Linked DNA regions of Homo sapiens: region 2 is linked to region 1. Evidence: fine-mapped expression QTL. A gene starts in region 1. The other region holds a variant in brackets. All regions are shown on one strand. Distances are between the middles of the regions. Region 1 holds the start of ALDH9A1 (aldehyde dehydrogenase 9 family member A1). Region 2 has its middle 14 kb from the start of MGST3.

What was found.
Region 2: its variant is fine-mapped to the expression of ALDH9A1 in whole blood (INTERVAL, PIP above 0.99).

The regions. Positions count from the first base shown.
Region 1 is chr1:165,695,410-165,700,787 of GRCh38, forward strand. It overlaps ALDH9A1 (aldehyde dehydrogenase 9 family member A1), which reads right to left and starts at 3,153. Exons shown (of 11, transcript NM_000696.4): 1 at 2,969-3,153. The coding sequence starts at 3,149. It also overlaps the pseudogene CA14P1. RefSeq lists enhancers at 2,889-3,118, 2,962-3,544, 3,409-3,588 and a silencer at 3,149-3,338.
Region 2 is chr1:165,614,806-165,620,183 of GRCh38, forward strand. No RefSeq gene overlaps it. Among named protein-coding and RNA genes, the nearest start is that of MGST3, 14 kb to the right of the region's middle. The variant A/ACACACACT (reference allele first, on the strand shown) is at 2,557.

The sequences.
Region 1 (5,378 bases):
GAAACATCAGTTTTAACTCAAATTGTTGCCACATATTTAAATAAAATATTATCTATCAATATTCTCTTAGTAGTAGTCTTTTTTTTTTTTTTTTTTTTTTTCTTGAGATGGAGTCTTGCTCTGTCACCCAGGCTGGAGTGCAGTGGCGCGATCTCGGCTCACTGCAACCTCTGCCTCCTGAGTTCAAGCGATTCCCCTGCCTCAGCCTCCTGAGTAGCTGGGACTACCAGTGCACGCCACTACGCCCAGCTAATTTTTTGTATTTTTTAGTAGAGACCGGGTTTCACCATGTTGACCAGGATGGTCTTGATCTCCTGACCTTGTGACCCACCCGCCTCAGCCTCCCGAAGTGCCGGAATTACAGGCGTGGGCTACCGTAACTTCTTGTTTTTATGTATGGTTTGATTTAGTGACCATCTCTATACTAGCAGGTTTTTTTGTTTTGTTTTTTTGTTTTTTAAGACGGAGTCTCGCTCTTGTTACCCAGGCTGGAGTGCAATGGCACGATCTTGACTCACTGCAACTTTTGCCTCCTGGGTTCCAGCAATTCTCCTGCCTCAGCCTCCCGAGTAGCTGGGATTACAGGCGCCTGCCACCACACACAGCTAATTTTTGTATTTTTAGTAGAGACGGGATTTCATCATGTTGGCCAGGCTGGTCTTACATTCCTGACCTCAAGTGATTCACCCACCTCTGCCTCCCCAAGTGCTGGGATTACAGCCATGAGCCACCACACCCGGCCTAGCAGTTCTTAACTGTATTTTGCGGTCATTGACATTAGGAGTCTGATAAAAGTTGCAGACCTCTCTCCAGAAAAATCTACTTAAACATATAACAGAATTACAGGAATGTCATGTCCCCTGCCCTAAACTCATCAAGGATTTAGAGTTAAGAACCCCTGCCCTCTACTATTTTACAGTTGAGTTTACTAACATTAACTTCTGATTAAGTTTTGCAACACTCCTAAACATTATCTCAGAATCTCAGGGGTCTTGTAAAATGAAAGTCAAAAGTAATCAGTCTATTGGGTTATAAACTCTGACTGTAAATCCCTTGTCTATATTCTATGTAGGTTATATCATACTACTTGATACTTGATAAATATAGTTAATAAGCAGTAATATCAGGATAAGGCAACCCTAAAGGAACATTTTTTTTTTCTCAAAAATTCCCAGATTTCCTTTTCTTATTCCACCTTTATTCCCTCTCCCTATTCTGGTGCAAATTATGAAACAATCAGTTTTTCTAGGCCCATAGCCCAAGGACTGTACTGCCTCTACCAACAAGAATTCTTTAAGTTTGCCAACTCAGCAAATCCTCTTCACAAGAACTCCTGGGACTCTTTCCAGGGAGATTTCACAAATCTGCAATTTCTGTTACAAACTTGAATAGCCAGCTGGTAAAGGCGGTGGCTGAGGATCACACACACTGTAGGCAATTAAAGCAAAGAGCAATTTTTCTTTCTTTTGTATCAGGATTAAGTCGGGGTAGAGAAGCTGTTTCCTCCTATATAAAGAAGAGATGTGATAATGCCTTCTGGCTCTGCCAAGTCACTGCTCTGTGGTTTAGTGTGGATGGTCAAATACTAAATTCTCCAGTCCCCTGCAAATCAGTTTTATTGCTCTGGCTACATTTTACACAAAATATTTACATTTTTCTCCCCACATATATTCCATAAAACCCAGCAAAATAAACACAACACAAAACCAAAACAAAAAGCCCCTTCTTCCTTATCTCTGTGACCTTCAGAGTTCCCAGAGTAAATCCAGTGCCTAGCACAGTGCTTAGCACACATTAAGCACTGGATTAAAAAGTTTTATTTCAGCAAGATGAATAAATTGTGGAGAGCTCACGTAGACCATGGTGACTATGGTTACCAATACTGCATCATATACTTGAAATTTGCTAAAAGAATAGATCTTAAATATTTCACTATCCAAAAAAAGCCATTAACTATGCAGAAGCAATGGATAATTAGATTGACCGTGGTAACCATTTTGCAAGGTATACATACATTACAACACGTTTTACACCTTAAGTATATACAATTTTTATTTGTTAATTATACTTCAATAAAGCTGGGGAAGAAAGTACTGAATAAAGGTGGGGTTTTTTCCTTTCCCAATTCTGATTAATGTGCAGAAATATTTTAATATTAGAATGTGGAGACAAAGTCCTCATTCGTAGTCATTAGAAACTATCTGTGAGCGTTCCTTCATTCCCAGCACAAATGATTATCTTCCCCACAACCCCGCCCCGTTCTTTTAGAATTCCTCTCCTATGCACACATTTGAAGACAATAATACATCAGTCCTGGTTTTAAAAGGGGGAACAGTTGGCTGGGCTTGGTGGCTCACGGCTGTAATCCCAGCACTTTGGGAGGCTGAGGCGGGAGGATCACCTAAGCTCAGGAGTTCGAGACCAGCCTGAGTAACATGCTGAAAACCCGTCTCTACTAAAAATACAAAAATTAGCCGGACATGGTGGTGGGAGCCTGTAATCCCAGCTACCAGGGAGGCTGAGGCGGGAGAAGCACTTGAGCCCGTAAGGTAGAGGGCGCAGTGAGCTCTGAGATGGTGCCCCTGCACTCCAGCCTGGGCGACAGAGTGAGACCCTGTCTCAAAACAAACAAAAAACAAACAAACAAACAAAACAAACAAAAAAGGAAGTTAACAGAGGCACGACTTCCCCCACCAGTACTTTGCGAACTCTGTTCTGGCCCGGGTAAAACAACTCACGATCCTACCACGCAACTCATCAGCTTTGCTTTTCCTCCCTACCCATCCCTGCCCGGAGGCACTCGCGTTGCCCCAGAATCGCTAGTTGCCTACACACACAACCTTAGACTCTCCACTGTCACTGTCTTGTGCTCAAGTCAACGCTGCAGAACACAGGAAACGGGGGCTGGCCGGGAAATCCGCGCATCCGGCCCCAGGGCGCCCCAGCCTCCCCGGCTCGTTGCAGTTACCGGTTGCTGGCTCGAAAGCTTTCTCGGTACCGGAGGCGTCCGCCGGCTCCACGCGGGCCCCGCCGCGGTAATTGAGCGGCTGCGACACGACGAAGGTGCCAGTGCTCATGGCGGCGACAGGAGAGGGCCGAAGACTGCGAAGAAGCGGGGAGAGCGCGGCCAGGCCTGCTCGGAGAAACATGAGTGGCGGACGCAGCTCCGCGGCAGAGGCTGACGGGCCGCGGGAGGGGCGGGGCCGCGGGAGGGGCGGGGCCGCGGGATCGGTTCTAGGAGATTTTAGGGGCAGTCACTCGATTCCTCTGCGGTCCAGGCCAGGCCCTCCCCTCGCCAGGAGGGTGGAGCAAGACACCACATTCTCCCCACCACCCCGCCATACCCCACACAGTCTCCAGGCGGGAAGAGGACTTCCTTCTTCGTGATCAATATTTGCGTAGCACTTTGCAAGTGTTTTCGGGTTCATCATTGCATGTAAGCATCCTAGGATCCCATTCTTAATCCTATCGCCTGAAGAAGGCAGAGGATTGGAGTGCCAAGAGTCTTTGGTGGTTACTTCACTGCTAAACCACCGTTTCTGTAATTGTATAATGCTTTTTAAAGGGTGACAGTAAAAAGCAAGGGGACTGTGAACGAGATAGATGATATTGTGATCTGAAACTGCTTTTTAAATTCTTAAAGAGAGACTGGGCGCTGTGGCTCTCACCAAGGCTGGAGGATCGCTTGAGCCCAGGAGTTTGCGGGCAACAGAGAGAGATCCCGTGTCTATAAAAAAATAAAATAAAAATAATAAAAATTGGGCCGGGCGCGGTGGCTCACGCCTGTAATCCTAGCACTTTGGGAGGCCAAGGCGGGCAGATCACCTGAGGTCAGGAGTTCGAGACCAGCCTGACCAAAATGGTAAAACCCCGTCTCTACTAAAAATACAAAAATTAGCTGGGTGTGGTGGCGGGCGCCTGTAATCCCAGCTACTTGGGAGGCTGAGGTGGGAAAATCGCTTGAACCCGGGAGACGGGTTGCAGTGAGCCGAGACTATGCCATTGCACTCCAGTCTGGGTGACAAGAGTGAAACTCAGAAAAAAAAAAAATTATCCAGGTGTGGTGGCACACGCCTGTGGCCCCAGGTACTTGGGCGGCTAAGGTGGGAGGATCCCCTGAGCCCCGGGGGTCCAAGCTTGCAGTGAGCTATAATCGTGCCACTGCACTCAGGCCTGGGCAACAGAGCGAGACCCTGTCTCAAAATAAATAAATTCTGAAGGAGCAATGTAAATGCTATTAATGACAAATATTGATAGAAACAGAAGCCTAACATACAGAATACGAAGAGCAAAGGCCACAGGAAAAAGTGTCAGGAAACAAAATGCCTTCTGTAAGACAAAGCAGCCACCCAGAGGCACTCACAGGTCTGTCAGCTGAGGGATCTTGCACAAAGGTTCATTCTTCTCACCAAACTTCCATGCACCTCCAGTAGAGACTTTGACAAACAGAAAGTAATTGGCAATTTGGACATTTCTTTTAGGATTGTTTCTCTTCTGGGGGCTGCTGTCTTTCTCAATGTTTTTTCCTTTACCTGCCAGCTCACCAGCGCAATATTAGGGAGTGTGGTTTTCAGGTTTAGAGTATATATAATGTATTCTGATCAAGTTTTCTGGCACTCTATACCAGTTTGTTCACTTTTTCAGTGCTACTGAGATGTGTAGGTCTTGGTCCTCAGATGGAAACAGCAGTGCCCAAACTCAGAATACCTGAGGCCACACTCACATATTATTTTATTATTGTCCATTGCAAACAGAATTGAAACATATCAGGAGTTGGTGACGAGCAGCACTATAGATTTCCAAGATCACTGAATGGTCATTTAGGTACAGAAACTATACGTCTCAAATTTTATGGGACAATTTCTATTTAAAAGATTCTGTCCCCAACCAATGCATTTTGACTTGTCACATCATAATTCCTGATGTTTGTTTTGGAAATGTGGTCGTGATGTCTATTGAATTAATTCATAGATGATAAGACTGACAAACCTCTGGCCAGGCACAGGACTCACACCTGTAATCTCAACACTTTGGGAGACCGTGGCAGGAGGATCGCTTGAGGCCAGGAGTTCAAGACCAGCCTGGGCAACATAGTGAGACTCTGTCTCTACAAAATATTTTTAAAAATTAGCCGAGCATGGTGGCACAAGCGTGTAGTCCTGACTACTCAAGAGACTGAGGTGGAGGATTGCTTGAGGCCAGGAGTTCAAGACTGGAGTGAGCGATCATGGCACCACTGCTCCAGCCTGGGCAACAGAGTAAGACCCTTCCCCAAAGAAAACAGATCTCCTCCAAAATATCTACCTTTTAAATATCTAGCTGTTCCTCTTACCTATCTGTGCTTTTATTATTAAATTATTATTTTTAACTTTTAGGTT
Region 2 (5,378 bases), 81 kb before region 1:
CTGGGATTTTAGTGCACCCATCACCTGAGCAGTGTACACTGTACCCAATGTGTAATCTTTTATCCCTCACCCCCCTCCTATGCTTCCCCTCAAGTCCCCAAAGTCCATTGTATTACATTATTCTTATGCGTTTTTGGCCTACTAGCTTAGTTCCTGCTTATAAGTGAGAACATACGATGTTTGGTTTTCCATTTCTGAGTTACTTCACTTAGAATTAACAGTCTGCAACTCCATCCAGGTTGCTGCGAATGCCATTATTTTTTTCCTTTTTATGGCTGAGTAGTATTCCATGGTATATATATACCACATTTTCTTTATTCACTTGTTGATTGATGGGCATTTGGGCTGGTTTCATATTTTTGCAATTGTGAATTGTGCTGCTATAAACATGCATGTTCAAGTGTCTTTTTCATAATATGACTTCTATTCCTCTTGGTAGATACTCAGTAGTGGGATTGCTGGATCAAACAATAGATCTACTTTTAATTCTTTAAAAAAACTCCACACTGTTTTCCATAGTGGTTGTACTAGTTTACATTCCCACCAGTAGCGTAAAAGTGTTGCCTTTTCACTACATCCACACTAACATCTATTTTTTTTTATTTTTTAAATTATGGCCATTCTTGCAGGAGTAAGATAATATCGCATTGTGGCTTTGATTTGCATTTTTCTGATAATTAATGATGGTGAGCATTTTTTCATGTTTTTGGCCATTTGTATATAAAATAAATTTGTATATAACTATTTTGAGAATTATCTATTCATGTCTTTTAGCCCACTTTTGGAAGAAATTTTTTTTTCTTGCTAATTTGTTTGAATTTCTTGTAGATTCTAGATATTAGTCCTCTGTCAGATGAATAAATCGTGAAAATTTTCTCCTACTCTTGGGTTGTCTGTTTACTCTGCTGATTTTTTTTTTCTATGCAGAAGCTTTTTCGTTTAATTAAGTTCCATCTATTTATCTTTGTTTTAGTTGCATTGCTTTTGGGTTCTTGGTCATGAAGTCTTTGCCTAAGCCAATGTCTAGAAGGGTTTTTCAGATGTTATCTCCTAGAATCTTTATGGTTTCAGGTCTTAGATTTTAAGTCTTTGATCCATCTTGAGTTGGTTTTTATATAAGGTTAGAGGTGAGGATCCAGGCTAAAGCACAAGAATCACTTGAACCCGGGAGTCAGAGGTTGCAGTGAGCCAAGATTGTGCCACTGCACTCCAGCCTGGGGGACAGAGTGATACTCTGTCTAAAAAAAAAAAAAGGTGAAAAGATATATCTCTTAAATTAGAATATAAATAAAGCACAGCCATACTTGACTTAGAAAAATAATAGAGCACAGGCAGTCATTGTTCTCTTTTAATTTACAACTTTTAACCTGAAGTGCTTAAACAGGGAGGTCCTAGAGAGCTTTTTATCTGAAAAGCTGTGTGAAGTGTTTGGCCCTGCCATACCATTCCCTTGCCCTCCATGTCTTTTGCTCAGGGACCAGGGAATTTGACAGGAGAATGTCAGTGAATGGGCAGAGTCAGAGCTGAGGCGAGCAGATCTTTGCTGAGGAGACATTGGACATAAGGTGTGCTCATAACACTACCTGAGCAAACAGCTCAGCTGTTGCAAAACAGCTCAGCATCAGAGGAGGCAGAAGTGATGCTAAGACTCCACTCATTCACAAAGGAGAAGCCAAATCAAACAGCTTGGCAAATCACAGCAGCTTGCTCAGATACTTGTTCTTTCCTTTATTAAACAAATATTTATTTGACACTTATCAGATGTTAAATTTGCCATAGGCCCTGGGAAAATAAAGGTGAAGTTTTTTTCCTGGAGGGATATTACTTTATAATGGAGGAGTGACACAGTAAGTGAATACATTATAACAAAAGATTAGATAGTAAGTGGTCTGAAGAGAAATAAAGCAAGGGAAGGAGATAGTGACCAATTGCTTGCCTATTTTAGAAGGACTGATCAGGAAAGGCCTTTCTGAGATGGTGGCATTTGGGCAGAGACTTGCATGGAGAGAGGCAACAGAGATGCAAGGTAGAAAAAGCAATCATGAAGACCCTGAGGTCAGAGCAAGTTTGGTGTGTTCAAGGATCAGCCTGAGATCCACTGTGGCCAGAGCAAAATAATAAAGGGAAGATGAAGTTAGAGAGGCCAGCAGTGGTCAAATCCAGTAGGATCTTGTGAGCTATGGATTTTATTCTCTGTGTGCCACTGGAGTGTCAGCCAGGCTCTAACTTGCTTAATAATGTTGAGAACTGTTGTCAGCTCTCTGGGCTTTCCAGGTATTTGATGCAGACTCATTCTCTGCTGAAGTACTTCGAGAAGTTCTTTCGAGGCACCCCGCTATGCACCACACCTTCCCCCAACTGGAGACACCTTTGCCTGTGTCTCCCTTGGTGTAGGTTAGTACTCCTGACTGCTCCCTTCTGCCAGAGCTTCCCTCCAGTCTCTTTCACCTGAGCTCACCTCTCCATGCAGTGCTCCCTCAATCTCTCTCTGTTCTTTCTCTTTCTCTCTCTTTCTCACGCGTGCGCGCGTCTGCACACACACACACACACACACAC[A/ACACACACT]CTCTCTCACTCACCAACCTTATCTGGGCCACAGCAATTGTTCAGCATCCTCTATCAGGAGATGGAGATGACTCCCCATTCAGCACTTTTGCCTCTCCCCTCCACTAGCACAGAGAGCCAGCCCCAGCCTCTAAACATGGGTCCCCTGCATCCACCAACTGCAAAAGACATTTAACCAGTTCACAGAGGGACTAAAGAAGCCCCTTTCCTTAGGCCAGTGTTTCTCAGCCTCAATGATATTGACATTTGGGGCATGTATTTTGTTATTGCAGGGGACTATCATATGCATTTGAGGATGTTTAGCAGCACTGTGTTCTGAATGTTGGTGTCCTCCCAAAATTCGTATGTTGGAACCTAATACCCAAGGTATAGTACTAAGAGGTGGGGTTTTTGGGAAGTGATTAGGTCATGAGGGCTCTACCCTTGTGAATGGGATTCATGCCCTTATAAAAGAGGCTTGAGGGAGCATGCTTGTCCCTTCCACCACATAAGAATGCAGCAGCAAGGCATCAACTCTGAAGCACAGAGGAGTCCTCAACAGACAGCAAACCTGCCAGCACCTTGATCTTGGACTTTCCAGCCTCCAGAACTGTGAGCAGTAAATTTCTGGTTTTTAGAAATTACCCATTTCAAGATATTTTGTTGCAGCAGCCTAAACAGACTAAGACAAGCAGGATTTCTGGCCACTAGCCAATAGATGCCAGCAGCAGCCCCCGAGCTGGGACAACCCAAAATGTCTCCAGACATTGCCAAATGTCCCCTGTGAGGCAAAATCACCTTAATGGACAAGCCACTTCAGCCCTGGGCTGAAAGTGAGGGAAATCCTGCTTCCCTGTGGGTATGGGGTATGGAGCTCAAAGTTCAAGTCAACAGCTTCCTCCTCATCAATCTCTAATTCCACCTTGGGCTTTCCAACCTCTTTTATATCCTCACGTGGCAAAGGCTCAAGGGTTGCAATACCCGTTTTCAAAAACCCTTTTTCCAAGTACTACAACACACACCTGCCATCTCCTTGGGAAACATGAGAGTATTTGGAACCTGGAATTCTGGCACCTCAGTCAAAACTGAGACATAAATCTTCCCATTCTCACATCCTATTATGCTATAATTTTTTATGAAAGAAAAACAGGGGCATACACACACATCACATATGTATTTGCTAGTACAGTCTCTGCATAGAGCATCTTTGGGAAGACTCACAAGAGTCTTGAACGATAATATTTGTTTTTTTCCAAGGTATTTTTTTCTAGGTGGCTGGACAAGCAAAGATAGAGACTTTTCACTTTTATAATTTTTGAATTTGAAACCATTTCACCTATAAAATTACCTTTAAAAGACAAAAAGATACAAGAAAAAAACAAACAACCCCATCAAAAAGTGGGCGAAGGATATGAACAGACACTTCTGAAAAGAAGACATTTATGCAGCCAAAAGACACATGAAAAAATGCTTATCATCACCGGCCATCAGAGAAATGCAAATCAAAACCACAACGAGATACCATCTCACACCAGTTAGAATGGCGATCATTAAAAAGTCAGGAAACAACTGGTGCTGGAGAGGATGTGGAGAAATAGGAACACTTTTACACTGTTGGTGGGACTGTAAACTAGTTCAACCATTGTGGAAGTCAGTGTGGCGATTCCTCAGGGATCTAGAACTAGAAATACCATTTGACCCAGCCATCTCATTACTGGGTATATACCCAAAGGATTATAAAGCATGCTGCTATAAAGACACATGCACACGTATGTTTATTGCGGCACTATTCACAATAGTAAAGACTTGGAACCAACCTAAATGCCCAACAATGATAGACTGGATTAAGAAAATGTGGCACATATACACCATGGAATACTATGCAGCCATAACAAATGATGAGTTCATGTCCTTTGTAGGGACATGGATGAAGCTGGAAACCATCATTCTCAGCAAACTATCGCAAGGTTAAAAAACCAAACACCACATGTTCTCACTCACAGGTGGGAATTGAACAATGAGAACACATGGACACAGGAAGGGGAACATCACACACCGGGGCCTGTTGTGGGGTGGGGGGAGGGGGGAAGGATAGCATTAGGAGATATACCTAATGTTAAATGACGAGTTAATGGGTGCAGCACACCAACATGGCACATGTATACATATGTAACAAACCTGCATGTTGTGCACATGTACCCTAAAACTTAAAGTATAATAAAAAAAAAAGATAAAAAGAGCCAATAATTCAAAAAAATAAAAGAAAGAAAGAAACCCCCAGTTTTAGGACCTAATAAGGAGAGGCAGGATTGCATAAGAAAAGCCCATATGGAGAGACTGTATTTATTATTAGAAGGCAAGAAGGTCCAGCTGCTCTGTGGCCCAAGTGTGTCCTGGGGTAAAAACTGAAGCAGATAAAAGAATTCGTGTAATTTTTATACAGATACTTCAGGTCTGTGAGACTCTGCCTCTGAAGAATGGATTTAAAAATTGATTATTCCTACCTGACAGCTAAAAAATCAATGTATTCTCTTTCCTTTCTTCCTTTTTTCCTTCCTTCCTTCCTTCCTTCCCTTCCTCCCTCCTTCCCTCTTTCCCTCTCTCCCTGCCTCTGTCTCTCTCTTTCCCTCCCTCCTTCCCTCCCTTCATTCCTTCCTTCCTTTCTCTCTCTCTCTCTCTGTCTCTCTCTCTCTTTATTTCTTCAAGTATTCAAGTGCTCACTATGTGCCAAGCAGTGTCCCAGGAGCTGAAGATACAGCAGTGACCAAAACAAAACCCCTGGCCTTCATATATCCTAATGCAGGGAGAGGACAGAAAATGTGGAATAAGTAAGTTAAACAGTG